Linked DNA regions of Homo sapiens: regions 2, 3, 4, 5, 6 and 7 are each linked to region 1. The links come from fine-mapping of genetic effects on gene expression. A gene starts in region 1. Each other region holds a variant in brackets. All regions are shown on one strand. Distances are from middle to middle.

Region 1 (4,065 bases):
CACGCGGTGCCTGCCTCCTGGCACCCCAGGCCAGCCCCACACGCGTGCAGGCAGACAATAGGATCTGCAGTTCTGGAGCCTGAGACCAGAAGGGAGCAGCTGGGCACATGATGCCACCCCAGGTTGCCACAAACCTGCCCGATGCCTGCAAAGCCCCCACTCACCTGGCAGGTTCAAGGAACAGCAAGGCCCTGTGTACCAAGGAGGTGGGATAAAAACGTGCAGAGGGGCCTTACTCCTGGGGTTGGGGAGCAGAGTTTCTGTTCAGTCTGGGATCTGGATCAGCCCTGGTGCAGGCAGACCCAAGAGCATCTATCTAGGATCCCAAAGGCTGGCCCACTTCTCCAGGCTTTGGGAGGCTGTATCAGGTGGGGTGGGACCCTTACAGAAGTCTTCCTGTAAAAGGCACCTTGAAGAGACTGGGGCAGACACACAGAGGGGAGCAAGTTGCGAAACGGCAAGAGAGGAAATCCACCCAGCCGCTTCGGCGGGGCAGACCCGCTCAGCCCAAGGATGAGGGAGGGGCTGGGCTCAGCCCAGGGACGAGGGAGGGGCAGGTAAGCCCACCCTGTGACCCCTCCATACCCCCAGGAGTCACCCCAAACCCTAACTCCAGTTGGCTTCTGACAGGAGGCAGCCCAGCGGTCTGGGTGGGGGTTGGGGGCGGTGCCTGGGAAGCCCAGGACGGGCCTGTTGCCCGGGGGGCTGCAGACTCCAGCCTCCTTCCTGCCTGCCCCACCCTCCTGCACCCCGCTCCCCGGGAGGAATCTTCAAGTGCACAAGACCCTCTTGAGGACTCAGGCACCTCAACAATCCCTAAGGCTCCACATCTTCAGGGGGTCAGTGCCCCAGAGATGGGGGCTGTGGGCAAGGTCCTTCCCTAGCCTGTAATCCAGGCAGCCCCCTGACTCTGCGGACTCAGACACAGCAGTCCTCCCAAGCCCGCAGCTGGGACGCCAGACTCAGATCCCAGACCCCCTGCAGACCCATCAAGACCTGGCTCCTTGGAGCCCGCGTCGGCCGAGCTGGGGGGACAGACCCCCTGATTGGCCAGGGTTTGTGGTGGTCAGACCCAGCCACCTTCCCTGGCGGTCCCGGCTCCTTTAAGCCCCACCAAGTGGGGAGCCGAGCTGGGCGCGCCGCTTCCCACTCGCGGGCCCCACCCGCCCCAACCCGCCAGGCGCCGACCCGTCCTGGCCCGGGGCGCCCCCAGGCTCCCGCGCTCCCCAGCTCCCCAGCGCGCGACCGGCCCCGCGGCGTGGTTCCCCGCACTGGCTACTGCCAGGGTCCGCGGGGCTGCGGCGCGAGCTCCTGGATCCCTTCGGCCGGCCCCCCGCGGCCCTCGGTTCGCTCCGGCCCTGCCCGGCGGGGCCCTCCGGATCCTTCCCAGCCCGCCATCCCCCCGCCGCCCTGCCGCCCCCCGGGCCGCCGCGCTCCTACCTCCTACCGTGCCGCGAGCTCGGTGCTCCGGGCCGGCCGGGCGCGCGGGGGCTCCACTGGCGGCGCGGGCCTGGCTGCAGGAAATGCCAGCAGATGGTCCCCCCGCGCGAGGCGGAGCGAGGGCGCGGCGGAGGGAGGAGGCCCAGGGAGCCCGGAGGCGGGAGGAGGAGGCGCGGCGGCCGCAAAACCCGGGCCGAATCGCCGCGCGGAGCGGGCGCCCAGGGGCTGCCCCCCACCGGCTGCCGCTTCTCCTCATCCCCCAACCCCCCGCGCGCGCTCCGGGGCTCACACCCACCCGGGCGGCCAGAGGTCGGGACACTCCGCTGAAAATGGCCAGGAGGCTTGGCGGGGTGGGCAGCGGTGAGTGGGGTCAGCTTCGTGGGGTTCTCCAACTTAGGGGTGCAGGCCCCCAGCCCACCCTAGCCAGGGTGCGAGGCGCCTCCTCTCCCTTCCTGAACCCAGGAAACTGTCGCCGTTTCTCCCCGTCTCAGGAGCCATCAGAACACAAGAGGAGCCCCAGACATCTGAGCCCGTTGTCCCTGCCCCTTATGTGCTAAGAAGGACCCTCAGTCACACTCTAACTGTACGTCTTTCTCAGGACCCTTTTGACAAGAACCTCCCCTCATGTGCATTTCTTCCTGTGTTTTCTCCTCACCTTCTTCTACCCCCCAGAGACCTTTTTAGACCCCTCAGTTCTCTTGTATATAAAAGACATTCTAATTCCCCTAAACAGCATCCCCTTGGGAGCTGAGAAGTCCTCCCCTGGCCCCTGGCTCCCTGCCTGTAGACCCTAAATTGGGTGTGGGCCCAGGGCTGGCCCCAGGGCGTTTGCATCCCTAGTGTCCAAGCCTGAGGTGCACTGCAGGTCCTTCCTATGGTATGTCCCCAAATGACCAGAAAAACTGGGAGCTGGGCTCGGGCATCCCCAGATGTAGGTAGACCCCAAGAGGGCGTGGAGTCTTTTCCACACAGAACCTTAACAGGGACAGAACTGACCCTCCGCAGAGAGCCCTGGGCTCCTCCCCAGGCAGAACTGCCACTGACACGTGTGTTTCTACGGTTTCACGCTGCAGTTGCATTCGGGAGGCCGCAAGCCTGGCTATCATGGGCGTCTGCAAGACCTCCCAGCAGGGCTGCGGAGGGCGAGCGGCCCAGGAAGGCTCCTTCCAGCACCTGAAGGGGGAACGGCACAGCATGCAGGTGCTCTGCCCACAACAAGCCAGACCCCTTCCCGTCTCAGCCCTGGCCTTGCCCACCCCGTTAGACAAGTTGGTGGGTATCCTCCTGGGGATAGCAGCACCAGCCGCTTGTGTGCGGATCACAGGAACCCACGGCTTACGGAGGCGAGTGGGCTGATCGGACTTGCCCTAAGCTTACCCCCAGGGCTAGCATTGCCATTCCATAGTCACCTTGTGAGGCCTTGGGATGCAGAACTGCTCAGTCAAGATGCTCAGGGCCATGGTGGGACCCTGCTCCGCGTGGCCTGTGGCAGGCGGCCTCTGCCTCTGCAGGAGAGGGTCTGTGCAGCTGGGATCCACATACAACTGCTGGGTCTGCTCTTTGAAGACTCCGCCCAAAGCTGAGGTGCTGCTGCCTGGTAACTTGCTGGTTGCTGGAGCCAATCCAAAGGGAATTAGGGAAGAAAACAAAGCCCCTATCCCTAGGGCGGAGGTCTCAGGGGCGGCAGTAGGGAAGGTTGCCAGTTGCTTGATGCTGGCTGTCCAGGGCCTGGGTTTCATGAAATGACACTGCTGAGGGCAGAGGTCAAAAGTCAAAGAGGCACCTGAGGGTGGGGGAAGGGGCCATAGATGACAGCAGGGTGGGGCTGGGGTGGAGCAGGACGAGGGTTGAGCCTCTCACTGGGTAGTGTCTGACAGCCAGATGGCCATGCAAGAAATGAAGAACACGCCACCTGCCAGGCTCAGTGACAGGTGTCAGTTGTCTGCCCCACTTCCCAGCAGGCTCTGCATTTTTCCAGAAAGCCCCATTTCCAGCCTCTTGCCTGGTTTTGGAGAGGCAGTGAGCCGAAGAGGTTGCCCCCAGCAAGAGGTAGGTCCGAATCCTGCTGCTGCCAGAAAGAAGCTCTGTCACCAGGCAGTGGCTTGTTCCTCCTGGGACCCCGCTTCCTCTCCTGTCAGATGGACACAGCATCTGTGCCTGGTGGCCAACGCAGGAAATGAAGGCGTCAGAGGTCTCAGAGATGGGCAGAGCCAGGTGCCAATGGCACCAGCTTTAGGGGGGCACGCCCAGTAGGCCCCACCATCCAGGAGCCCTTGAGCAGGTTTGTGCAACTGGCCGTGCCTCAGTTTCCTCATCTATAAATGGCGATGACCAGAGCAGTTTCCGCTGCATGAGCTGCCATAAGTCCCCAGTGGGCCAACAGACTTTGCAAGCGCTGGCTGTTGGTGGGCACTGGGGACCATGAGTGGACTATGGGAAGGAACGGCTTGCAGCGCCCAGCTGGTTAGTTTGGAATTTATGGTAATTCAGAAAAATATGTCTGTGATAAGTAAGAACTTAAAAAATGCTTTGCAAGGACAGTGCAATTTAAAATCAGGGCAGTTCCAATCCAAGTCTCCAGAATGGCAGTTCTCTGCTAGGGGCGGTTTTGCCTCCAGTTTCCAG
Region 2 (4,065 bases), 180 kb after region 1:
ATTGGAGTTGGAGGCACTCATGTGGGGTGAGTCTGCCTTGACGCAGTGGTTGCTCCCCATCACTGGGCTTCTCCAGCTCCCTCTCTGAGAATCTGGTGCATGCCACTCAGAACAAATACCCTCATCTCTATAAGATGCCCTCTCCTGAGCATAGTGGAGAGGTTTTATAATGTGAGGGTGAAACCTTTCAAAGTAGAAACCTGTGATTTCTTTCCATTTGGACAATTATAAGGACTTTAAGACCCTTTCTGCTTTGGGTAAATCAACCATCTGCACAAGACACGTTTTACAGAACAAAGGACAATAGAGTCCTCATTCACATCCTGGTCATGTCACTCCTGGTGACTCCGCATTGCAAACATCCCAGCAGGGTGCAGTTCTTTTCTCTCCCATCCGATGGGCTTCTGGGGCCCCATCACTCTGATTGGACACGGACTCCCTGGAGGCAGCTCCCAAGAGCAGAAGACACAGATGACTCAGAAGTTCCTAGAAAGTCATCAAACCAGATGACACAGAACTCAAATGACATTTCACTTCGTTTTGTATGAGACAAGGTCTCACTCTGTTGACAAGGCTGTAGTGCAGTGGGGCGATCCTGGCTCACTGCAACCCTCACCTCCTGGGGCCAAGCGATCGTCCCACCTCAGCCTCTCAAGTAGCTGGGACTACAGGCGCTCGCTGCCACGTCTAATTGTTTGAATTTTTTGTAGAGATGGGGTTTTGCTATGATGCCCAGGCTGGTCTCAGATTCCTGGACTCAAGCGATCTGCCCACCTTGGGCCCCGAAAGTGCTGGGATTATGGGCGTGAGCTGTGTTATTTCATGCCCCGTGACAGCCCAACGAAAAGGAAGGAACCCCGCGGGTCCATAGTGTACTCACGTGGCTGGACTGATGGCTGGGAAACCCCAGCACGAGGAACCAAAAGAGCAGCCACCGCAGCCGCATGTCCTGGTCCTCTCAGGGCGCCCTGAGGTGGCCAGGGCACAGGTGGGGGTGGCTTAGGGCTGGGGGAGGGAAGGGGATAGGGATGGGGATGGGGATGGGATCGCAGTTGGGGAAGGGAAGGGAGAGGAGAGGAGGGGAGGGGACTGAAGGGGGGCTGTTGGGCACCTGGAGGAGGAGGAGGTGGAGGAGAAAGGGGTCTGGGAAAGGAACCAGTTCAAACTAAGTCCTCAAGCCCTGGTGGGAGGTTCAGCTACAGGTCAGTGGGACAGTCGATCAGCAGAGCAGCAGGACGCATGGGGTAGAGTAGCGGGAGGCTCCGGAGCAGTTGGAGGGAGACCAGGGCTCTGGTTTCCACCAAACCAGCTCCTGTCTGGGAGCTGCGTCAGCAACCCTGGGGCTTTATCCTCCCTCTCCACCAATCCCCGGCCCTGGTGGGTGGTGCCTCACAGTGGACATTCCTGGAGGTGCCCGTTTTCTTCCAACATCCCTCCGCTCCCCGACCTGGGCTGGGCAAAACAGAGACCTCATCTCTACAAAATTTTAAAAGTTAGCCAGGCATGGTGGCATGCAGCTCTGGTCCCAGCTACTCAGAAGGCTGAGGTGGGAGGATTACGTCAGCCTCACAAAGGAAGACTCTGCTTGAAATAAAAGAAATTAAATTAAGTAAAACACAAATAAAAAGAAAGATATTCTTTATTCACAAATTGGTAGAATTAATATTGTGAAAATGTC[T/G]ATCTTACATAAAATGATCTACAGGTGTAATGCAATCCCTATCAAACTACCAGTGACATTCTCCACATACAAAAGGAATACCCCAATTCATCTTGTCCCACAAAAGAAAACCATCAATAGTCAAAATAATTGAGTATAAAAAAAGGGCAAAGCTGAAGGCATCACAGAATCTGCCTTTGAAATATACTACAAAGCCACAATAAGCAAAACTGTATGGTACTGGCATAAAAAGACACATAGGCCAATAGAGCAGAATAGAGATCCCAGAAATAAATCCATGCATTTACAGCTAACTGAGGTGACAAGAACGTACAATGGTTAAAGGACAAACTCTTTAATACATGGTGCTGGGGAAAAAAATGGACATCCACATACAGAACAAAGAAGTGAGACCCACATCTCACACCACATATAAAAAGCAACTTGAAATAAAGACTTGAATGTAGTATCTGAAAGTCTGAAACTACTACAAGAGAACATAAGGGAAAAGAAAATACGATATTGGTTTGGGCAATTATTTTTTGAATTTAACCTCCAAATGCCAGGAAATAGAAGTAAATGTAGACAAATGAGATTACTTCAAACTAAAAAGCTTCTGCACAGCACCACGTACAATCAATGGAATGATAACCTAGGAATGGAAAAATATTTTAAAATTATAAATCTGACAAGGGGTTAATATCCAAAATATGTAAGAGACTCAGCTGTACAACGAAAACAAGTAAGTACTAAAAATGAGGAAAAAACTTAGACATTTCTCAGAAGACATACGTATAACAAATAGATAAATTTGAAAATGCTAAACATAAATAATTATCCAGGAAAAGCAAATCAAAACCACTGTGAGACACCAACTCACTCCTTTCAGAATGACTATTAATAAAAAGACAAAAAAACAAAAACAAAAACAAAAACAAACCAAGGGTTGATAAAGGTGTGAAGAAAGAGAAGGCTTGCACATTGTTGATGGGAATGTATATTGGTACAGCCATTCTGGAAAACAGAATGAAGATTTCAAAAAAATTAAAAATGGAGCCACCATTTGTTACAGCAATCACACTACTGTTTATATATATATTTTTAAGGACATCAGTGTGTTGAAGAGACATTTCCATGCCCATGTTTACTGCAGCACTATTTACTATAGTCATGATATAAAAATCACCCCAAATGTACCGAAATCATGAATTCTGTGACAAATCCCTTCATTTCCAATCACACGGATGAACCTGAAACACATTATGTTAATTTACAGAAACCAGGTGTAGAAGGAAATATACCATATGTTCTCATATGTGACATCTAAACAAGTTCACCTGTTAAAGTAGAGAGTAGAATTATGGTTACCAGAGGCAGGGGTTTTTAGGAGGGCAGAGGGTTTGGGGAGTTGATTGTCAAATTAAGACATGATTACAGTGAGATAGGATGACTAAATTTGAGAGATTTATTGTACAGCATGTTGACTATACTTAACAAGGATGTATTGTGTTTTTAAAAATGAGAAGACAGTCAAATGTTTAGTTCTTACCACATAAAAAATTATATGGGGTAAAGCATATGATAATTAACTAGAATAAAGCACTTGACACGTATATACCTCAAAACATCATATTTTACATGATATATACACTTTTATGTCAATTAAAAGAATAAATAAACATTATAGAAGGCTAGCAATGTTCCAAATAATGAAGTCTCTTTCTTAGTCATAAGCTGAGCTAAACAGTATCAAAAATATATAGTTTTTGTGAAGGTTTGGGTTTGTTCTCTTGTTTGTTTTGTTTTTTGTTGCCCAGGCTGGAATGCAGTGGCACAATCTCATCTCACTGCAACCTCTGCCTCCCAGGTTCAAGTGATTCTCGTGGCTCAGCCTCCTGAGTAACTGGGCGTATAAGCACGCACCACCACACCTGGCTAATATTTGTATTTTTAGTAGAGATGGGGATTTTGCCATGTTGGCCAGGCTGGTCTCAAACTCCCAGTCTCAAATGATCCACCCTCCTCGGCCTCCCAAAGTGCTGGGATTACAGGCATGAGCCACCGCACCCGGCCTCGTGAAGTGTTTGTTCTACCCTTTGTCAGCCATAAGCATAGAAACTCTGTATTTTTACAGCACTTGCAGGACCCAGCACAGAGCACAGGAAAGGGCAGGCGCCTTTAACCCAAGGACTCCTAGAGTTTCTGGTACTCATGTTGATGGAATGGAAAATACTAAAGACGCAGGTGGCATTAACAGTCCCACCACTAGCTACGCTATGAACACAGAAAACAGGTTTACATTCCAACTCACAGGCAAATATTTAAATTCAGAAGCTGCCAGGACTCCAGAGATTTATCTAGAAACAATGACCAATGAGTTAGATACAGCTAGGTAGCTAAGACTGAGG
Region 3 (4,065 bases), 78 kb before region 1:
GACCGCTTGAGGCCAGGAGTTTATGACCCTGGGCAACATAGTCAGACTCCTGTCTCTAAAAAAAAATGAGCTAGACATGGTGGTGTGTGTCTGTAGTCCCAGCTATTCTGGAGGCTGAGGCAGGAGGATTGCTTGAGCCTGGGAGGTCGAGGCTGCAGTGAGCTTCGATCAGACTACAGCACTCCAGCCCGGGTGGCAGAGTGAGACCTTGTCTCAAAAATAAGTTAAAAAATAAACAGTTCTTAGTAAGATAGAGGGAGAATTCTGGAGGGGATTCCATTCTTGCCCCTGTGTGTGTGAAGGTGCTGGGGTGCAGGTGGAGGGCCTGCCCTGTGGTGAGCTGGAGCTGGTGGGAGGCAGACCCCTGGGTAGGCTGTCTCTGGGCAGGGCACCTGGCTGAGCACGTTTGCTCCGCGTGGGCCTGGGGTGCAGGAGGCAAGATAGGGGTCCCAGGCGGGGTGTCTGGAACAGCCTGCCCCGCCATCAAGATGCAGAAGGCTGTCACCCCCAGGGCTCACACTCTGAGCTCATGTTTGCCCCATGGTGTGTGGCCTCCACAGAGGGGCACTGGAGCCAGGCAGGGCCCCCCGCCCCATCCTCCAGGTGGTTCGGGGGGGTCTTGGGAGTCCTGGCTGTCTGAGGCGGACATGAGGCTCCTCAGAGGAGCTGGGGGGCAGGACCCCCTGCCTCTCCCTCCACCCCAGCCACAGCCCCTCCTCTCCTGGGGCCTTGGGGGTCGAGGTGGGGAGGTGCAGAAGGGAGGTGGTGACCCGAGGCCCCTCGTGTCCCCCTCTCCTGGGTGCTGCCTGGCTGCCCTCCCTTTCATCACCCTTGTCCTCTGGTTGCTGTGAGGGGTGGGCTGCAGTCTCCCTCTGCTGTCACTTGAGGCCTGTGGTCAGGTGCCCCCACCCCGCCTTCAGGGGCACCCTGAGCAGGCCCACTCACTGGCCTTGGTGTCTGAGTACCAGGGGTGGTGGCCACAGTGGAACCGAAGCAAGGGGCAGCGGGCCAGGTGGTCCAGCCAGGGGGGGTCCCCTTCAGTAACTGGCAGCATTGGCCTCAGGGGCTGTGCCAATGCCCCCCAGCAGCCTCTGAGGTGCCTGGAGTGCCTGTGGGCAGTGTCACTCTGTGTCCCCCACTGGCTCATTGGGTGATGGGACGCCAGCCTCCCAGCATTTGCTCCACAGGGCGGGCAGGCTGCCCACAGCTCCCTGTGAACTCTGCACCCTCCTCCCTCCCGGGCCCCTCCACCCAGCCCCACACAGCTCCATGCTGGCCTTGAGTCTTCCTGGGAAGCCCTCCTCTCGTTTCCAGAAGTCCCGCAAGAAGAGAACACGTATGTGTCTGTTTATTTCAAGGTGTGGAACACAGACACATCCCCAGATGGGGGAGGAGGGGAGACAAGGACACGGGTACAAAAACTGGAAACAAAGCCACCCGCTACAGCTCAGACGGCACCGCCACGATGTGGTTTAAGGCTCTGTACGTATATATATGTGTAGAGGCTCACACACGCGCACACGCACACGCAGAGCGGCACTGACACGGGGACTGAGGCCAGACGTGAAGGCTGACTGCAGCTCGCAGCCCACCTAAAATATTGCAATTATGTTTATTAAAAAAGTGTAAAATGGGAAGACTGTGCATCGGTCTGAGTAAAGTGGCGAACTTGAGCCTCCCCGGCCTGGGTGCGGGGCCAGCTAAGCCACACCCCTGCGCCCCCCACACCCCTGCACACACCTGCACCCACAACCACCTCCACCTGCGTGTGCCCCCACCAGAGCGAGCGTCCAGGTGTGGGGGTGGGGTGGTTCCAGGACCTGCCTCTGTGGGGCTCCCATCCAAACAGCACAGCGTGGAATAAAAAACCAAAATGCCTTCCCCAGAGTGGCCCTAACCTGTCCCTGGCACCCACCAGTGGCCCCACCAGGGTGGTCCCGGCAATGTGGACAGGGTCTCCGGAAGGCAGGCCTATGCATCTGTGTGTGGGGGGACTCCTGGGCCACTCGG[G/GGCTCCCTGGCT]GCTCCTCCAAACCTGCCCACTCACTGCTGCTGGGGTGTGACTGTCCAGGGCCCCCACAGGCCCTCCCACCCTAAATCCATCCATCCCCCATGGCAAGTGGAGGCCGGACAGGGGGTGACACGGCAAGATGGCCAGGAGTGCGTCGCACAGCAGAAGCTGCATTTGGCTTTAGCATTAAGGCCAGCGCTGGGCGGAAGGCCCTGCAGAGAGGCCAGTGCCCCTGAGAGGGGCCCAGCACACCTGGGCCCGCAGCGCCTTGTGGCCCCGGGTCCCTCCTGCGCCTGGACTCCCCGTCACAGTGGCTGTGCTTGCCGGGCCTCTCTGCCTCCATGGAGCAGGCTTAAAGTGCTGGGTGCCTGGGAGGGAGGGCTCAGGACCGGCCAGGAGCTCTGCCCTCAGGGCTCCTATTTGAGGATGTGGTTAATGAACAGCTGACACGCCAGGAACACGCAGAGCAGGAACCAGGATCGGGGGCTCTGCAGGAGGCCTGGGGTCGGTGCCTGTGCTGCCCGTGCCGTGGAGCTCAGCATGGCCGAGAGGTGCCTGCAAGGACAGGCGACAGATCGTGGGGGCTGTGCCAATGCCAGCAAGTCCCCCTCCCACAAGCCAGGACAGTGCCCTGGGTACTTGACCAGGTGCTGGACACAGGGCCGAGGTGGAGATGGGATGGCCCTCCAGGGGCAACAGAGCGGGTGGGGGTGGAAAGCTTGTTAGTGGGAGGGCCCCACAGCACCATGGCTATACTGGGATTCCCTGGGCACATTCAGGGCAGAGGAGGGTCAGGGATTGGGGAGTCAGCCTTTTACATCCTCCCTCCCACCCCTGTGGTTATGGCTGAGTCATGCCTCTGCCACCTTCATATGTTGGAGTCCTAACCCCTTGCACCTTAGATAAGACTGTATTTGGAGATGGGGTCCTTAAAGAGGTATTTATTTAAATGGAGACCATTAGGGTGGGCCCTGGTCCCATGGGACTGGTGTCCTTATATGAAGAAGAGATGAAGACACAGACACAGCGAGAAGCTGGCGTCTGCCAGGCAGGAGAGAGGTCTCGGGATAAACCAGCCCTGTGGCACCGAGATCTTGGACTCCAGCCTCCGGGACCGCGAGGGAGTAGACGCGCTGTCCGAGCCCCTTGCCGGCAGTACTCTGCTGTGGAGGCCCTGGCCCTGAGCTGGAGTACTTTGCCGTGGAGGACCTGGCCTCTGAGGCGGTATCCAGTTTGCTGCAGAAGCTTCTGGCTGAGTCCTGGCCACCTGCCTGACAGCTGACCTGCTTCTGGGGAGCCAGGCCTCCCTGCTTCTCTGCCCACACAGCCTCACCAGGGAGCACCTTCTGGAAATGCTTACACAGGGACAATGACAGTTCCCCAAGGCTCTTGAGCCTCACAGAGCCCGGGCCTGTGCCCTGGCTGCATTTCACCCTGGGGTACTGCTATCAAGCCCACTTTACAGAGGGGAGGCTGAGGTGTGACAGCCAAGGTCCCACAGCCAGTGAGACCCTCAGCCTGGCTCAGAGTCAGGAGCTTTGGACCCGAGAGGGACCCTGTGCTCTGCTCCTCATTGGTGGGATCTGCTGACAGGAAGGGGCCATGTGGCCCTGGTGGCCTGCACCTGCCAGCTCTCGGCCACTCCCATTTGCTCCTTCCCCAGCCATTCCTGAGAAGCCACTGTGCGCAGGTATGGGGCCACCACAGTGAGCCCAGGCTGCCACCTCGCTCTGCACACCTCAAGGTCTCTCCTGGGGCTACCCCAGGCCATGCTGGGCTGGCACCTTCCTCTAGGCTTCAGGACATCTCCAGCTCAGTATCTGCCAGGCATGGCCAACTTGGCTGGTTGATCATCCCGCACCACCTGCCGCTCCCACACCCTCTCTCCTGCCCTCGGCGGTTGTCTTCCTTTCATCACCCTGCAGGTCTTGTGGGTTCCAGCTCCGATGACAACCCCAGCCGCGGCCTCCTGGCCTCCCCACCTCCCGCCCTAGCTCTACCAGGTCTCTCGCACTCTCTGACCCGGAGTCTGGATGGACACCCTGAGTGTGGCCCACCTGTGCAGC
Region 4 (4,065 bases), 97 kb after region 1:
CAGAAGTAAATTATTAGCTTTTTAAGTTCTGTGGAACAAGAAAGGGAAGCTTAAATATGATGAATACCTGTTGCCATCGTGCCTGAAGTATCGATGAAGTCTAATCTTGCTTTGGGTTTTGACTCAAAGCAACTGGAATATTCAACTGCTTTATAAGCTAGTGAAAGTGGGCTGCGTAGATGCGATTACAGGTTAAGGTTGTAAGAACAATCAGGACCTCAGAAGAGATTCCTTTTCCCAGTTACTCAGAATCTACATAGATGAAGTTTTAAAAAGCCTGTTAAATGTAGATATTCGCTTGGCTGTGGGAGAGGAGGGTAATTGGCTTGCAATTTGTTTTATCATGACATTTCCACTCTGGCCTTCCATTCCCCAGAAACTGAACTCAGTGACGCTCTTGGAAGAAGTGACCTCATCATGACAAAATCCAATCCCTTATGCACCACCAGCTCAACCATAAACCCAGGAGTCATCCCTAATTCGCTTTTTTCCTTGCCCTTTGTGCCACAAAGCCATTTTGTCTCCACCTCTAAACTTCTCTCCAGCCCCCTTTTCCCTTCTGATGCACGGGCACCCATTTCTCCCTAGACTGCCTTCTTCAGTGTTCCTAAACAGCAGATACCTAGTTCACAGGCCTGCTTACACAATGGTCTCCTAATGTTATTCTTCACACAAATGTGTTTTTAAAGTCTGTGAGAGAGGCCGGGCACAGAGGTTCACGCCTATAATCCCAGCTCTATGGGAGGCCAAGGCAGGTGGATCCCCTGAGGTCAGGAGTTCAAGACTAGCTGGGCCAACATGCCGAAATCCCGTCTCTACTAAAAATACAAAACTTAGCTGGGCGTGGTGGCAGGCACCTCTCATCCCAGCTACTTGGGAGGCTAAGGCAGGAGAATTGCTTGAGCCCTGGAGATACAGGTTGCCGTGAGCCAAGATCGCACGATTGCACTCCAGCCTGGGTGATAAGAGTGAAACTCCATCTCAAAAATAAATAAATAAATAAATAAATAAATAAAGTCTATGAGAGAAATTTGATTAGCCACTCTTTCACAAAGTATGAAGAAGAAACTGTGAGACAAACTAAATAAGAAAATGATGCTATTAAGAAATACTATTGGAATGATTGACCAATTCCTTGTCTGTGTCAGGTTTTGTGTATAAGGCATGTCTCTCCCTTTAAGGAGTCTGCAATCGTGTTACTGGGGAAATGACTTACTAGAATGCAAGCAAAACAGATTATAATATAAGATACTCAAAACCGGGTGTCAGTTATGTAAAAAATAACCTATATGTGGTGGTCCATTTTTAATTTTAAGTGTCTTAGTATAGGTTTAAGCAGGCTATGTGGAAATAAAGAGATAAAGAAGCAGAATGTACTGAGCCACCCCTGCCCCCATCCTGCTTTCTCCTTTCACTTGGCAGCCAGGTGCCTATCGGTCAGGGCCCCCTTAAATACCCCCTCCCCACCCCACCGAAGAATTTAGTTTAGGCTAGCTTGCAACATAGATAATTTTATCCTTTCTTATCAGCAAAGCACAGCCATCTAGGGCCATACGTCAAATGTTCGAAGAGTCCTGAGACAGTCACAATGCATTATGGGATGCAATAAAATGCAGCAGAAAGACCCTAATGAACATACTCGAAAACTTAATCCAACTACCAATATTCGACGTCCAGGAAGATTGTAACCTCGTAGTACTCAGCCAATGAGGAACTGGGGGAGGGACTTGTGCACTAGGGAGTAAATTTCTTGTTGAAGCCCTTCTGGGTGTGCCTCATGCCAGACACCCAATCTTGCAAGACTGCCATTAAAGTCTCGCTTCTTCTGTTCTCTGTGTCCCTGAGTCCATTCTTTGGGTTTGGATGGATAAGGATGTTTCTTACAAGTTAGAAAGAAATTTCTCAATAAGACTCTGAGAGCTTCCTGCTATAGTGCTGGAATTGACATGAGGGTGATTTTGTTTTTTTATTTTAATTTATCTTAAATTAATTAATTTCTTTCTACAAGGGTGATTTTGAAGTCTCCTCACTGCCGATGGTTTTGTGGAAACTGCACAGCGAGGAGGGTAGAGATCTTACTCCTGAAGAGCTGGGAGTCCGGGCTTTGAGGCAGATTCTGTGTTTCTTCAGTGTGTATGTCCTGAGGAATTAGCCACCCATCTGCCACAGGGCCCTGGGGGAGAACGCTACCATGTCTGAAAATGCCAAGGTGGCTGTCCCGTGGAGTTAGCTGTTGTTATCGTCTGTGCTTCGTGATAGCAGGAAGCTTTTTCCCCACTGTGCCCTGCAGCCTCTCCACCTCCTTCCCTTCTCCATTAGTCATGTGAAGACAGAGG[G/A]AGCAGGAGGGAAGTTGCCCCAGAGTCCAAGGCAAAGTGCATCAAACAGCCCCGGGTAGTCGTGTTCAGTTTAACTCTGCAGTTATTCCTGAAGTCTTAAGAACTGAATCCTGATACTGCTTTTCCCGTCTTCTTCAGATTCACTCCTGCCCCAGTTCTCTTTGTTGCTGAGAAAATGTCTTCCTCTGCTCTGTAGGATAATATAATACGTTTCTGAGAAAAGGAGCCGTGTCCTTCAGGAGAGGGGTAAATTACAAACGTTACAAGAGATTCGTACATGTTTCATCTCCCCTTTCTTATGGTCACTCAGTAAAATGAGATAACAGTCATGAAAGTTCTGTTATGTGCTCTGCCTAAACCACTGGCCAATTCAGCCCCAACCAGCCCAACTTAAGCTATTGAAGTGGGAAGATTTGGGAGACTGTTTCAATATCCTTATTTGAGTCAGCCTGTTTTTCTGTGGGCCAGAATAGGACATCACAACATGAGATTCAGCTTCTAGACAGGCAGGACGTGTCCTCCATGGATCCCAGCTCCCACAGCCAGGTCCTGTTCCCACTGTGGCTTGGGAGGACATCCCAGAAGCAGAGCCCACGTAGGCCTCCAGCACCCAGCAAACTGCAGGACAAGCTTGGTTGCAGAGTGAGTCAGGCCTTCTTAAACCCCTGCTCTTCCTGACTTGGGCTTCAGGAGACAGGACATGGTTTTGGAAGAGCCATGAAGAGCCACAGTACTGCTGAGTGGAAACAGCCTTCTTCTCTGGCTTAAGGGGAAACCAAGAAGCTTTTTGCTCTGGCTGGCTGGGAGGGCAGGGGGTTGCTGATGCCTGGACACTTCACGGAGGGACACACCCTGGGGGCCTCAGCCCCACTGAAGAGCCGCCTCCATAGACCGTGGCTGTAGACTGGGTCCTGGAGCCACTGGGTCCTGGAGCCACCAGCTCCTGTCCACATGGGGTCTGCAAAGGGAAGCTCCAAGCCCAAGCTGATGGAGAGGCAGAGCCTCAGTCCATCTCAGGGTTTCCAGACCTTTGTGATGAAGCAAAGCTTTTCCCAAACATGATTTCACCCCAAACCCCAAAGTGTACAAGCAGATAAGCACAGAAAGCTATTGTAAAAGTCAGAAAAGGAGGAGGGCTGTGAGAGGGGCTGACGGTCCCCTCCAAATTCTGCCATTGCAGCCTCGACCCTCAGGCCCTCAGAACATGACTGCATCTGAAGAGGCGATTCAAGGTAGAGGACACTATCAGGGGGCCCTCTGTGCCTGTCTCTGCCCTAATTTCCTCTTTTTAAAATTATTATTATTATACTTTAAGTTCTGGGCTACATGTGGAGAATGTGCAAGTTTGTTACATGGGTATACATGCGCCATGGTAGTTTGCTGCACCCATCAACCCATCATCTACATTAGGTATTTCTCCTAATGCTATCCCTCCCCTAGCCCCCCACCCCCTGACAGGGCCCAGCATGTGATGTTTCCCTCCCTGTGTCCATGTGTTCTCATTGTTCGACTCCCACTTATGAGTGAGAACATGTGTTTAGTCTTCTGTTCCTGTGTTAGTTTGCTGAGAGTGATGGTTTCCAGCTTCATCCATGTCCCTGCAAAGGACATGAACTCATCCTTTTTTATGGCTGCATAGTATTCCATGGTGTAGATGTGCCACATTTTCTTTATCCAGTCTATCATTGATGGGTATTTTGGTTGGTCCCAAGTCTTTGCTATTGTGAAT
Region 5 (4,065 bases), 27 kb before region 1:
CGGCACAGATGCTTCTGCCTAAACCAGATAGATTCTCGTTCAAGACTGTGGAGGGGAAATGCTCTAAAATCACAAGGATAAAGGAACATAAGCCCAAATGCTTGGCTCTTCGCACATGGGATGGAGAGGTCAGTGGGTCCCAAGGAAGGACAGCAGCCATCAGTTAAAGGACAGCAGCCATCATGTCAACACCATACGTTTGCATTCCAGAAACTTGCTAAGGTCAATGCAAGTGACCATGAAGATCCTGCTGTGAGGAAACCACGCAGGCCTCCTGAGTCACCCCAGGGAGACCACCACAGCAACAGATGCACTCCCTGAGAGCAGACAGCAGCATAAGAGACCAGGCTGCTGTGTCTGGGTGGACCGAATGCCTAGTGCTAATGTGGGCAGCCTGACCACCCCTGCAGGAGCAGCAGCCTCTTCAGAGAGCCGTGGCATGCACTTCAGCTGTGGCAGCTGGGCCCTGGGGGGCTTGGGACATGCGCTTTCCCAGGACATCTGCTGCACTGATGGACCTTAAAGCCCCCAGGTCCTCCTGGATGTTCTGTCCCATCTGATATGATTCTCGGAATGCTCGCAAGGTGCGGGGAGCAGGGGAGCAGGGGTCATCATCACATTTTAAAGATGCAGTGGGCCGGGTGTACTGCACCTGGGATTACAAGCCTGTAATCCCAACACTTTGGGAGCCTGAGGCGGGTGGATCGCTTGAGCCTAGGAGATCGAGATCAGCCTGGGCAACATAGCGAGACCCTGTCTCTACAAACATAAAAACAGCCGGTTGTGGTGGCACATGCCTGTGGTCCCAGTTACTCAGGAGGCTGAGGTGGGAGGATTGCTTGAGCCTGGGAGGTCGAGGCTGCTATGAGCCATGGTCATGCCACTGCACTCAGCCTGGGTGACAAAGTGACACCCTCATCACACACAAACACACTGGGACCCCAAGAGGGGAAACGGCCCATCTAAGGTCTCGTGGGCCAGGCTGCGCCTGGGATCCCCTCAAAGGAGCACAGCTGAAGCCCCAAATCCCCTTTGCACTTTGGAGATAGCTGTGGAGCTGAGGGGGAGGCCAGGCCTCCCTCTGGGGAGACATTTATCAGAGGCAGCTGTGGAGTGGTTGAACCTCAAGAGGGGCACAGGAAGTGGCCTGCACTGCTGAGGACGCAGCATCGAGCCATGCCTGCGTGTTCTCCGGGCTGCCTCAGCCAAGTCCTGTGCCTGTGGGCCCGGCCAGGCCAGCCCGTCCCCGGCCCTGTCCACCTGTCCTCCTGATGGACACCAGGCCCACTGAAGGCTCAGAGCAGCTACTGGGTCAGCTGGCCTTGGTACCCCGACCCCACACCCCTGTAGTCGATCACTCCACCAGCCCTAAGAAGCCCTGGCATGGGGGCGGGCTGGGCGTGGTCCCTGAGGCAGGCCTGGCCCCACCACCTCCCAGCTAGACCCACCACCTCCCAGCTAGACCCACCCCACCTGTCCCAACTGAAAGGAGACTCCGATTTTCAGATGCTAGCTGCAGCCAGGTGGCAGCAGGGGTCAGCCGGGGAGGGAGGGGTAAGGGAGTGGGGGCCGTCACTTGGAGGCAGTGCAGCTGGAGGCAGGGGCCTGCTGGGATTGTGGACGCAATCTCAAACCCGCCACGCTGAGCCTCAGCATTCACACTGGAAATAAGACATGAACCTGGGCCCCCAGTGGAGCCTGGACACTCACTTCCAGAAAAGACGCTCGCCTGCCGTGCTGTGGGGCTGGCCTCTGTCCTGAATGCCCTCAGGCACACCTGGGGCCTCTTCTGGGTGGTGCCAGTGCCCCCTTGCCTGGCCCTCCTGGTGAGGCTCCTGGGCTTGGTGTGCCACCCCCAGTGGACGGCCCTGCAGGCCGCTGCCTACCCAGGTGGGGGACCAAGGGAGAAGCAGCTGGGCTGTGGCCGCCTAGGGACACGCGGCTGAGAAGCTGAGCACGTGGCTGTGTCTCCTCATCTGGCCCCAGCCTGCTCATCCTCCTAATTCCAGGGCAGCCTGGAGCCAGGCGTGTGGGCAAAAACTCCAACAAGAAGACCAGAGCAAAACAAAGAGGACGCGGCTGCTGTGGGCCAAGACTGAGGTCCGTCTCCGCCCTCCAGGGGCACCTGAGCTCCAAGGGCAGGGACCGGGTGATGGGTCTTCGCTGACACCGAGTGGGGATCCTGGGGTGCGAGCAGGCCCACACTCTCCCCCAAAACCCTCCAGCCTCAGTCTCCCCCACTGCCCACCCACACACCACCACAGCTGTTCCCGTTCAGGGGACCCTGGGGTGACCATGAGGCAGTGGGCCTGAGAGCCAGGGAGGTGGAAGCTTCCAGCCCTGGAGGAGCAGGTGGCCACCGGCCAGCTGAGTGAGCGGAGACCAGGAGGCTGTGCGGGACGGGTGGCCC[C/CA]GGGGCTGGGGCCGTGGCCAAGCCTGCTGGGGTCTGCCAGGGGCATCAGCTCTGAAGGTGCTGGCTGTGCTGTTGCCAGTGCTCTGTGGGGCCACGAGCAACCTGCCAGGATGATGGGGGAAGGAAGAGCCACCAGGCTGGGGCAGAGGTGGAGACAGACCCCAGTGATGGAGTTGAGCCCATTCTGGGAAAGGCAGGGAGGAGTGGCCTCCAGTGAGCTGGGGAAAGCCAGTGAGCAGGGGGCTTTAATCACCAGCCCAGGCACCCAGCCCTGCCCGCAGGAGTTTGGGGGCAGGATGGGGGTGGCAGGCCTTCCCCTGGCCTCTGGACAAGCCCCCGCCCCAGGGAGGCCTTGCTGCCTTGCTCTATGGGGAGGAGTCACTTCCAGAGGGCACATCCAGCCTCCCCTCCTCTCTCTCTGTCTCTCGGCTTCCCTCTCTGGGCTCCTGGACCCTGGGTCCAAGTGCTGCTTCCCCCGGCCTCTCTTCCTTCAGGCAGCCAGCCTTCCCTGCTGGAGTCCCCGAGGCCCAGCCACGCGCCCTGAAGGAGCACAAGCTCCTAGGGTGCGTTTACTCGCAGAGGCTGAAGCTGGTGGTGGGGTGGGGCGCTCACAGCCTGGCCTGTGGTTGGCCAAGGACACCAACAGGAGCTCTTCCCTGCAGCTCCTGGCAGGCCTGCAGAGGTGCCCCCCCTGCTCTGAGAAGCCAGCCTCACAAGATCATTCATCGCAAGCTCTGGGCCCACTGCTCGGCTGTGCAGCCTGGGAGGGGGGTGTGCAGTGGTCCGCCAAGCAGCACCTCTGCCAAGGAGCTCCCTCTGCAGAGGAGAACCCGGCCAAGGTCCCCCAAATTGCAGCCACCATCTCGGGCTGTATTAACAGAGGTTGAGTCCTCAGAAGGAGGGAGGGGATAATTGCAGTGGTGTCTCCCTGGCCAGGCTGCTGAGTTCAGCTCTGGAAGGGGCAGCCCACAGCAATGCTCTCTGTGAAGGGCCAGCATGGTGCCACCCAGGAGTGACACACACAGCCAAGCTCTCCCCTGTATCCCTCAGGTGCTGGACAGGCAGGGTAGGGCTCACAGCCAAGCTAGGACACCCTTCCCAGGGCCAAGGCAGCCCAGGAAAAGCCAGCACAGCGTGTCCTCCTGAGAGGCCTGTGTGGACACTCAGGGGTCCCAGTCTGAGGGGGAACACAAGGCCTTGACCTGGTAGCCCACTTTCAACACTCCGTGAGCACGCAGGGCCTCCCCCAGCAGAGAGGGGCACCGAGGGAAGCCAGGACCCCAGGCAGTGCCCTCTGTCCACCCAAGTACATGCTGCCCCACCAGTGGACAGGCATCGTCGTCCCGGCTCCCCTCTGTCCCCCAGCTCACATTACCCAGGACTGGCTGTAGGAGCCTTGTTTCCAAGACCAGAGAGGTCATAAGGTCACCTGCTGCCCACACGTCCCATCCTAGTCCTCCTTGGGGTATGTGGGTACCTGGGGCGGCCCCTCATGTCCAGGAGCTGAGGCTGCCCCTGGGTGTATCAAGGTGAGGTGCCTACCCCACCCCTACCCGCCCATGCAGAGCTGCAGCTGGTGCTCTGGTCAGCCCATGGGTGTGACAGCCCAGGGGGCCCTGGGGCCAGGTGACCACCTCAGAGCCACTCCTTCCCCG
Region 6 (4,065 bases), 35 kb before region 1:
GCAGGCAGTGGGAGGAGAGGGGGCAGAGCTGGGGAGAGGTCCCCCAGGCAGGTGCCTGCCCCTACCTCCTACTCTCAGGGGAACAGGGGAGGAAGGGCTGGGTTTTCTGGGGGACAGCAGTCACAGCTCAGCCTTGGCTGGGGCAGGGGTTGTGCATAGTTAGGTGCCAGGGAGGGGCCTGGAGAGTGGCAGCATTGGCGGGCAGAGGTTCTGAGTCTGTGTGCTGGGTGCTTTATCTACAATTGCACGAAGGCAGGCCTGGTTCCAGCTGTCCCCTCTCAGAGCCCAGGACCCATGTATAGCTGGGAGTAGGTACTAATATTGTCCCATTTTATAGATCAGTCAACTGAGGCCTAGAGAGGTCAAGTAGCTGGCCTGGGGTTACCCTGCCAGGACTGGGGCTCAGGCCACCTGTCCCTGGAGCCTGCACTCCATAACTCCCAAAGCCTGGGCTGACTTTGGGATGACTGCACTCCATAACTCCCAAAGCCTGGGCTGTGGGAACCCCCTCCTCAACCAGATGGGCTTCACCTGGCCCCGCAGGTCAAGCCAAGAAGCCGTATTACCTGGCACTCTACCAAGCTACAAACCGTTTGATCATGAAACCCACACAGTCCCCAGCATGGAAGCTGTGGACCTCAAGGGGCACAGAGGGGTTGGGCCGCCCGGGGTCACCCCACCGGGCCCAAGCTGAGGGCCAGGTTGCCCTGCCCACGGCCGGCACTTACCTGGGCTGAGTGGGTAGAGCTCATTGTCTCCGCTGAGGAGCAAGTTCCGGGTGAGCTTCCGGGGGTCGACTTTCTGAGGGGTGGAGGAAGGTGGACACAGGGAGAAGCGGCGCCGGAGGAAGGCCTCCTCCTTCATGCTGTGGGCGCTCGGGGGCTTCTGGAAGGAAGGAAGGAGGGGCAGCAGGAGGTCACCGCCCCGGAAGGGGCTTCAGAGCCACATGGTGGGGGTGCCCCTGGCTAAGAAGTCCCCCTCTCAGGGGACTTCTGAGGCAGGGTGAGGAGGGCCTGGGCCCTGGGAGCCTGGTGGTGGGTGGTCAGCCAGGACAGCCCAGCTCAGGCGAATGGCTTTGGCTGGTGCCAGCCCTTTCCACGCCGGGCAGTAGGGCTGGACGGAGCCCTGGTCAGAGAGGCTCATCACCACCCTCGGAAGATGTCCTTCTCAGAACCCCCACCCCAGGTTCTGTGAGACCCTGGCTGCAGCCAGGCAGACCCACGTGTAGACACAGGTTTTCCCTCCCGCATTTCCCTCCCACGTGACAGCACTTTGTGGTGGGGAGGGGTCTAGAGCTTCCATGGAGAAGATGCACGGGGGTGAGACCAGGTGGCCGCTGAGCACCAGGGAGTGGCTGGCACGGTGTTGGGCAGTCCGGGAGCCTGGCCTGCCATCCATCTAAGGGTCCCAGGAGCGCCTCGCCTCTGGTTAAGCCCGCCTGAAGCTTGGGTGCCCCAACAGTTTCAGTTGCACCCACATGCACCCCAGCAAGAGAGGGAGCTCTGGGCGCTCACAGCCAGGCACACCTGCGTCCACGCCCAGCCCAAGACGTTGCATTCCCAGTGGGAGCTTCCTTGCTGCTTCACAAAAGAGGGAGGCCCCACAGCCAGGCCCTGACACCCACCTGCCTCGCTCTCCCAGCCCCGCCCACTGGCAGACCTGCCTTTCCCCTGTGGGTTCAGAAGCGAGTTTCTTGTTTCCTCCCCTGGAAGGAGAGAGGACAACAGGCGGTCCCCTCTGTCCTGCTCCCCACCAGCCCTACACCTAGTAGTGCTGGGCCAAGCAGAGGGTAACTGATTGCAGTCACGCCTTTGCAGGCACTTGAAGTTGACGGCGCCAGATCCACTGAGGTCTCAGCCCATTTTACAGATGAGAAAATCATGGCTCAGGGAGTGGAAGGCCTCGACCTGTAATCGTGACCTGACAAGGGTTGGCAGAGCATCCCCTCCAGCTTCTCATCTTGTGTCCACTTCCCAAGGGCGAGCTCCTTAAAAACTACTGGTCAATTTTCCTCCTTTCCCAATTTTCTGGGGCTGCTTCCTGCTGCCTCAGGGCAGGCCAGTGGCATCCTGCCAAGCCCGGGACAAAGGCCTCGATTTCTCCCAT[G/A]GTCCTGGGCTTTGCTGGGGGGGGCCTCAGACACACAGAGACTTTCCTGCTGTGGCTTCAGGAGTGGGCTGGGGGCCCAGGGTGTCTGTGGTCCTGGGGGCTTCTGTCCACCACCCCAGAGCCCCCTCTGTGCCCCCAGTCCTGAAGTCAGAGTGGGGAGGGGCTCCAAGGATGCAGCCAGGCTGGGCCAGCCCCTCCCTCACCTGGCCCCTGGCTCGGCTCATGACCTTGGCCATCTTACACACAGGGCAGCTGGCTTCAGAGAGGCTGGCGTTTTGGCCCAGGTCACAGAGCTAACAATCAGCAATGCCGTCCTTAAGCCAGGTGGAACCGATCCTAAAACCCAGCCGCTGAGTGTCTGCCCACTCAGTGTCTCAGCTTGGCTCAGCCAACCTGCCGCAGGGAAGCAGGCAGATGGGAAGTCCTGCCCCTACTTGTCAATCACAACAAACACGTCCTACTTGCCCAGGTGCAGCTCAGGATGGGAACCAGCAGCTGAGCGGAGGCCGGGCTTACTCAGACAGCTGAGATTTTCTGAGCACCCAGGCTGGGCTGGGCACCAGGCAGCCAAGGTAAGTGAGCAGCGATCCTGCTCTCAGGACCCACAGAGAGCCCCGGAATGTCCCAGGCAGTGTGGTGACAGCGATTCCCAGGTAGGTCTCCCTCACTTGGAACCTCCTGGGGCAGGGAGAGGGGCTCAAAACCTAGCCTCAGCTGCCCTGTCTGGCTGTCTGCTCCAGTTCCACCTGGGCCAAGGTAGAAAGGCCATAGGGGATCTTGGTACCTTTCTGCTCAGATACCCCACATACCTTCTCCCAGCACCAATGACAGCCAGTGGGACTTCTTAGTCTGTGAGTGCCACCATCCACTCATCTATACACCAGTCTCATCTATACACCAGTCTCCCGCTCCCTTGTATCCCTCCATCTATACATACATACATCTCCCTTCCAGGCATCCATCCATCCATCCATCCACCCACCCACCCATTCATCCATCCATCCATCCATCCATCTACTGTCATCCCATCTATCCATCAATCCATCCATCCATCCATCTACCCATTCATCCATCCACCCATTCGTCCATCCATCCATCCATCTACCATCCTCCCATCTATCCATCCATCCACCCATTCATCCATCCATCCATCCATCCACCCACCCATTCATTCATCCATCCATCCATCCATCCACCCATTCATCCATCCATCCACCCATTCATCCATCTGTCTATTCATCCACCCGTCTATTCATCCATCCATCTACTGTCCTCCCATCCATCCATCCACCCACCCACCCATTCATCTATCCATCCATCCATCCATCCATCCATCCATCCATCCTCCCAGGCATCCATCCATCCATCCACCATCTTCCCATCCATCCATCCATCCATCCACCTACCCATTCATTCATCCATCCATCCATCCATCTACCCACTCATCTATCCATCCACCCACCAAACCATCCATCCATCCATCCATCCACCCATCCACCCACCCTCCCTCCCTTTCAGGCATCCATCCATCCTCCTGTCCATCCATCCATCCATCCATCCATCCATCCATCCATCCATCCATCCACCCACCCATCCACCCACCCTCCCTCCCTTTCAGGCATCCATCCATCCATCCATCCATCCATCCATCCATCCATCCATTCACCCACCTGCCACCCCTCTATCCCTCCTTGAAGCTCTCCAGCCAGTCAGCTGACCTGCCTGATTCCACCTTCCTTCCCATTCACCTCACACTCAGACACATCTGAGGTGGTATTCAAATAATGTCTGAAACACTGATATGGAACAGACACTCACCAATCCAAATGCAATACAGGTGTGTACCAGGGACTATCACTCTGTGTGCCAACAACCCCAGACCAGTGTCCAGTGCCCCGGGCCCTGCAGACCACCTCTGACCCGCTCAGACAGGGTGGGCGGCAGCTCTCATCACAAGGC
Region 7 (4,065 bases), 52 kb before region 1:
TTTGATTTTGACTACTAAGGGGCTTTATTCATATAACAAGGCCACATTTTCACTAGCTAGGCCAAACTGAAAGAGTAATGACTGTACTTCTGTGTCCTCGTTGAAATTTGTCCTAGTTGAAATATGGAATGAGATTTAAAAAGATTTTTTCAAAGAAGCTCAATGGTTAAAAGTCAGTTTAATGAAAAGCTAACATCCAAGCTGTGTGTGTGTGTGTGCATATGTGTGCGCGCATGTGTGTGCATGTGTGTGTGTGTGCGCGCATGTGTGTGCATGTGTGTGTATGTGTGCGCGCATGTGTGTGCATGTGTATGTGTGTGTGCATGTGTGTGTGCATGTGTGTGTGCATATGTGTGTGTGCATGTGTGTGTGTGCGCATATGTGTGTGTTTGTATTTAAGAGACCTTCATGTTTCTGTTTTTGTTTTTCTCCTAGGACCTTGTCTTTTTTTGAGCAAAAGGGTTTTTTCTTCTCAGTTGACTGAATTCTGTTTCTTGATTTACTTCTGCTGTCTCTCCTTTCTCTTGCACCTTCTGCCGCATGGGGGACCTAAAATAGTTTATAGTAGCCTGGGGTTCCTTAAAGAAAATGGAGAGGGTGCCAGACTCCCCTTGGGGGAGAAACTTGTTTTTTCTTATGAAACCCCAAGAATGTAAACAGACAAGTTTGTCTCAGCTCTTAAACTGCTTACTTTTGTATTGTGTAACCTGTTTTGTGTTTTCTTTTCTTTTTTTTTTTTTTTTTGACTAAAGTAGTTATTGCAACAGTGGTTACTCTTGGGCTTTTAAGGAAGAGTGTGGTTTAGACACTTAGAAATGTCTTTGTTTAAAAAAAATTTGTAAGTGCACTATAAAAGCATCACGTGGTCTAACCTCATGATAATTCTCCCTTTCTGGAGACCTAGGATTCAGTGTGGGCTCTTCCCAGAGCTCAGAGATCCAGTTAAATGATAGGTAGTCCCTACTACATAAAATTGGTCTCCTTATGCAATCCTATGATAGATTTCTATAATTTTGTTTGATTTGGCATCCATCTTTAGTCTCCCTCTAGCACCACCAGACTTTTTCTCTCTGTACCTTATGCAAATTTTGCTATTTGATTTTCACCTGAGTTGTTTCCCTTAATATGCAAATTTAAGGCTATTTAGCTGACAATTGCCTAGGGTTGTGAAACAGGTTATCAAGAATCTGAAAGTCTAAGACAGGAAAAAAAAATTTTTATAAACCTATGAGATGTACTTCTATTGCCATGCCTAATATGTCTATGTATTTATGTGTCGTGTACACAATGTTTCACTACTGAAAATATATAAAAGGGCTCTAATTGATTGGCTTAAGAAAGTAAATGCACTTGAATCAAATACTTGATCAGGAAAAAAGAAAAGACAAGTCAAATGCTTTTTCAAGTTTATGTAACTTAAATAAAATCTTTAATAAATAAGCTAGCTTTAAAATTATTGGTAAAGTAATATTAGAAATGTCTTAAGAATTGCCAGCATATATTTTTGTTTGCATTTATTAATCAAGCAATTTCATACTTATCCCTGCCAAATACCAT[G/A]AGGTGTCAAAATTTGGCATAGGAGTTACGAAACTATAAACCCAGCCCAAGACAGAATGATCTTTGCTTGTGTAATCTTTAATAATGCCTGTAATCTCAGCACTTTGGGAGGCTGAGGTGGGTGGATCACAAAGTCAGGAGTTCAAGACCAGTCTGGCCAACATAGTGAAACCCCATCTCTACTAAAAATACAAAAATTAGCCAGGTGTGTTGGCAGGCACCTGTAATCCCAGCTACTCGTGAGGCTGAGGCAGGAGAATTGCTTGACCTGGGAGGCAGAGGTAACAGTGAGCCAAGATCGCACCACTGCACTCCAGCCTGGGAGACTAGAGCAAGACTCCGTCTCAAAAAAAAAAAAATTTATATTGGTTTAATAAAAATAGCTACATCTTAAATTTAGTAAGATTACCATAACTTCTAATCTGGTGGCTTTAGGTAGTCTAGTCCACAGGCAGTAAGGTTCATTTTGAGAAAGACTGTTATAGTCTTTGTTTCAGGTAAACTATAAACTAAGTTCCTCCCAAAGTTAGTTTGACCTATGCCCAGGAATGAACAAGGATAGCTTGAAGGTTAGAAACAAGATGGAGTCAGTTAGGTCAAATCTCTTTCACTGTCTCAGTTATAATTTTGCAATGGTGTTTCCATAATTTAAATAATGACAATTGCAGTTTTTATAAATAATCTAGGTAAATGATTAAAATAATTAGGTAAATGTAATAGGACAAATACTTGTAGACAAATTCATCATAATTTAGAATTTAAAGTTAGATTAAATAAGATATTTCACTATTTGGATATTTTCCAATAAAAATATATTTGTAGGAAAATATGCTTTCTAAAAGAAAGCATGTCCTTTTGAAAAAGGTGAACAATTTTTGCCTAATTCAAAGCTTATTTAAAGATCATGTATAAAACAAGGTAAAAGGAACCAGGAAATAAAAGAGTAAAAGAGATGTAAAGAAAGTTATAAAAAAGTGTTTTTTGGTGGAGAGTAAGAAAGCTTAAAGAGAAATAATTTCATATGAGAAAGAATCTTGTATGGTAAATTTAGTCCTAGAGTAAAATGACTGGTTGTTTAAGAAAGAGGGATGTTCAGGACAAACCAGAAAGTCCAAGCGTGGCATGAATGGTCTATGGAAGTCACAATAAGAGGATCTATTAAAAAAAAACCCTTTTATATGATCAAGTTGTCTATGACTAAAGGGAAATTATAATGGTCTTTCTAGAGATTGGGTTTGATGTAAAAAAACAGTTATAGACTAAAGAATTGGTTAGAACAATGATTTTTTTTTTTTTTTTTTTTTTTTTTAGACAGAGTCTCGCTCTGTTGCCCAGGCTGGAGTGCAGTGGCGTGATCTTGGCTCACTGCAAGCTCCACCTCCTGGGTTCACGCCATTCTCCTGCCCCAGCCTCCTGAGTAGCTGGGACTACAGGCGCCCGCCACCACGCCTGGCTAATTTTTTTTTGTATTTTTAGTAGAGATGGGGTTTCACCATGTTAGCCAGGATGGTCTTGATCTCCTGACTTCGTGATCCTCCTGCCTCGGCCTCCCAAAAGTGCTGGGATTACAGGCATGAGCCACCGCACCTGGCCGACATTTTCTTAAGAGGTTGATTTACTCTTAATCAATTATAAGATATTTTAATTTTTTAATTTTAACCCAAAGTTCAACTTTCATTGCATCTTGCCAGTTTCAGTTTTCTCTTCCCTCTTAAAAGGAACAAAATAGTAACACTTCCCTTCAACTCATTTTCAGCTCATATAAGTTTTGTTTTCCTCCTCAGGTTCTGTTTTTTTGTGTGTGTGTGGCCTGATGCTAACAATGTTTTCTTAAAGAAAATGTTTTCTTCTAACATAATATTCTATACACTGCAGAAGGTATTTGCTTTTGCCTTTTGGTAAGTGGCCTAACAGATTTTATGTTTTATCAAAATAATTCCTATGCCATTATTATTAAGTTTGGTTTGCTTAGGAAAAACAGATATTAAAATTTTTTTTAAATCAAGGTTATTCCGTCCTTATATCTTCTTGTATGTGCTTTTAAAGTCCTTGCGACATTGAGTTACAGGGATTTGACTCATGGGTCTAAAAAGAACACCAAGTCCTGCTAAATTTTAAACACTGACAGCAATTAAAGCTTCATCTTCAGGCCCGGTAGAAGATGCCAATCAAAATAAACCACATTCCTGAGACACAGAAATTAAAGCTGTTCAACTCCTCAAGGCCCAGAGACTATCCCAGAAGAGATAGACATGTGAGATTGTAAGGGCTGACTTTGAGAGATAAAGTAAGTTCAGTTCCTCTATAAATTAATCATTAATGTCAAAGGCACACTGATGCAAGACTAGCATATGGGCCCCTGTGTCAGATTAACAAGGTTTTCTTGAAACAATAACTGACTCCTTAATAAAGGTTATAAAGGCTTATGGAAGTTATATCTTATGATCAAGATGAAAATTTTATAGATTGGAATTTTGGAAAACAATTTAATTGGCTTCATGATGTTAT

What was found.
Region 2: its variant is fine-mapped to the expression of OSBPL5 in left ventricle (GTEx, PIP 0.96).
Region 3: its variant is fine-mapped to the expression of OSBPL5 in tibial nerve (GTEx, PIP 0.98).
Region 4: its variant is fine-mapped to the expression of OSBPL5 in whole blood (INTERVAL, PIP above 0.99).
Region 5: its variant is fine-mapped to the expression of OSBPL5 in whole blood (TOPMed, PIP above 0.99).
Region 6: its variant is fine-mapped to the expression of OSBPL5 in whole blood (INTERVAL, PIP 0.99).
Region 7: its variant is fine-mapped to the expression of OSBPL5 in monocytes (TOPMed, PIP above 0.99).

What each region holds. Positions count from the first base shown.
Region 1 is chr11:3,163,776-3,167,840 of GRCh38, forward strand. OSBPL5 (oxysterol binding protein like 5) reads right to left here and starts at 1,535. Exons shown (of 22, transcript NM_020896.4): 1 at 1,441-1,535. RefSeq lists enhancers at 1-273, 2,017-2,729.
Region 2 is chr11:3,345,443-3,349,507 of GRCh38, forward strand. It overlaps the pseudogene VN1R56P. Among named protein-coding and RNA genes, the nearest start is that of ZNF195, 32 kb to the right of the region's middle. The variant T/G (reference allele first, on the strand shown) is at 1,679.
Region 3 is chr11:3,085,790-3,089,854 of GRCh38, forward strand. It overlaps OSBPL5 (oxysterol binding protein like 5), which reads right to left. Exons shown (of 22, transcript NM_020896.4): 21 at 4,057-4,065; 22 at 1,318-2,554. The coding sequence ends at 2,416. Among named protein-coding and RNA genes, the nearest start is that of CARS1, 30 kb to the left of the region's middle. The variant G/GGCTCCCTGGCT (reference allele first, on the strand shown) is at 2,011.
Region 4 is chr11:3,260,420-3,264,484 of GRCh38, forward strand. No RefSeq gene overlaps it. Among named protein-coding and RNA genes, the nearest start is that of MRGPRE, 30 kb to the left of the region's middle. The variant G/A (reference allele first, on the strand shown) is at 2,337.
Region 5 is chr11:3,136,887-3,140,951 of GRCh38, forward strand. All of the region lies in intron 1 of OSBPL5 (oxysterol binding protein like 5), which reads right to left. Among named protein-coding and RNA genes, the nearest start is that of OSBPL5, 26 kb to the right of the region's middle. RefSeq lists an enhancer at 1-45. The variant C/CA (reference allele first, on the strand shown) is at 2,411.
Region 6 is chr11:3,128,285-3,132,349 of GRCh38, forward strand. OSBPL5 (oxysterol binding protein like 5) reads right to left here. Exons shown (of 22, transcript NM_020896.4): 2 at 729-885. The coding sequence starts at 864. Among named protein-coding and RNA genes, the nearest start is that of OSBPL5, 35 kb to the right of the region's middle. The variant G/A (reference allele first, on the strand shown) is at 2,107.
Region 7 is chr11:3,111,752-3,115,816 of GRCh38, forward strand. The region is part of intron 7 of OSBPL5 (oxysterol binding protein like 5); the gene reads right to left. Among named protein-coding and RNA genes, the nearest start is that of OSBPL5, 52 kb to the right of the region's middle. The variant G/A (reference allele first, on the strand shown) is at 1,558.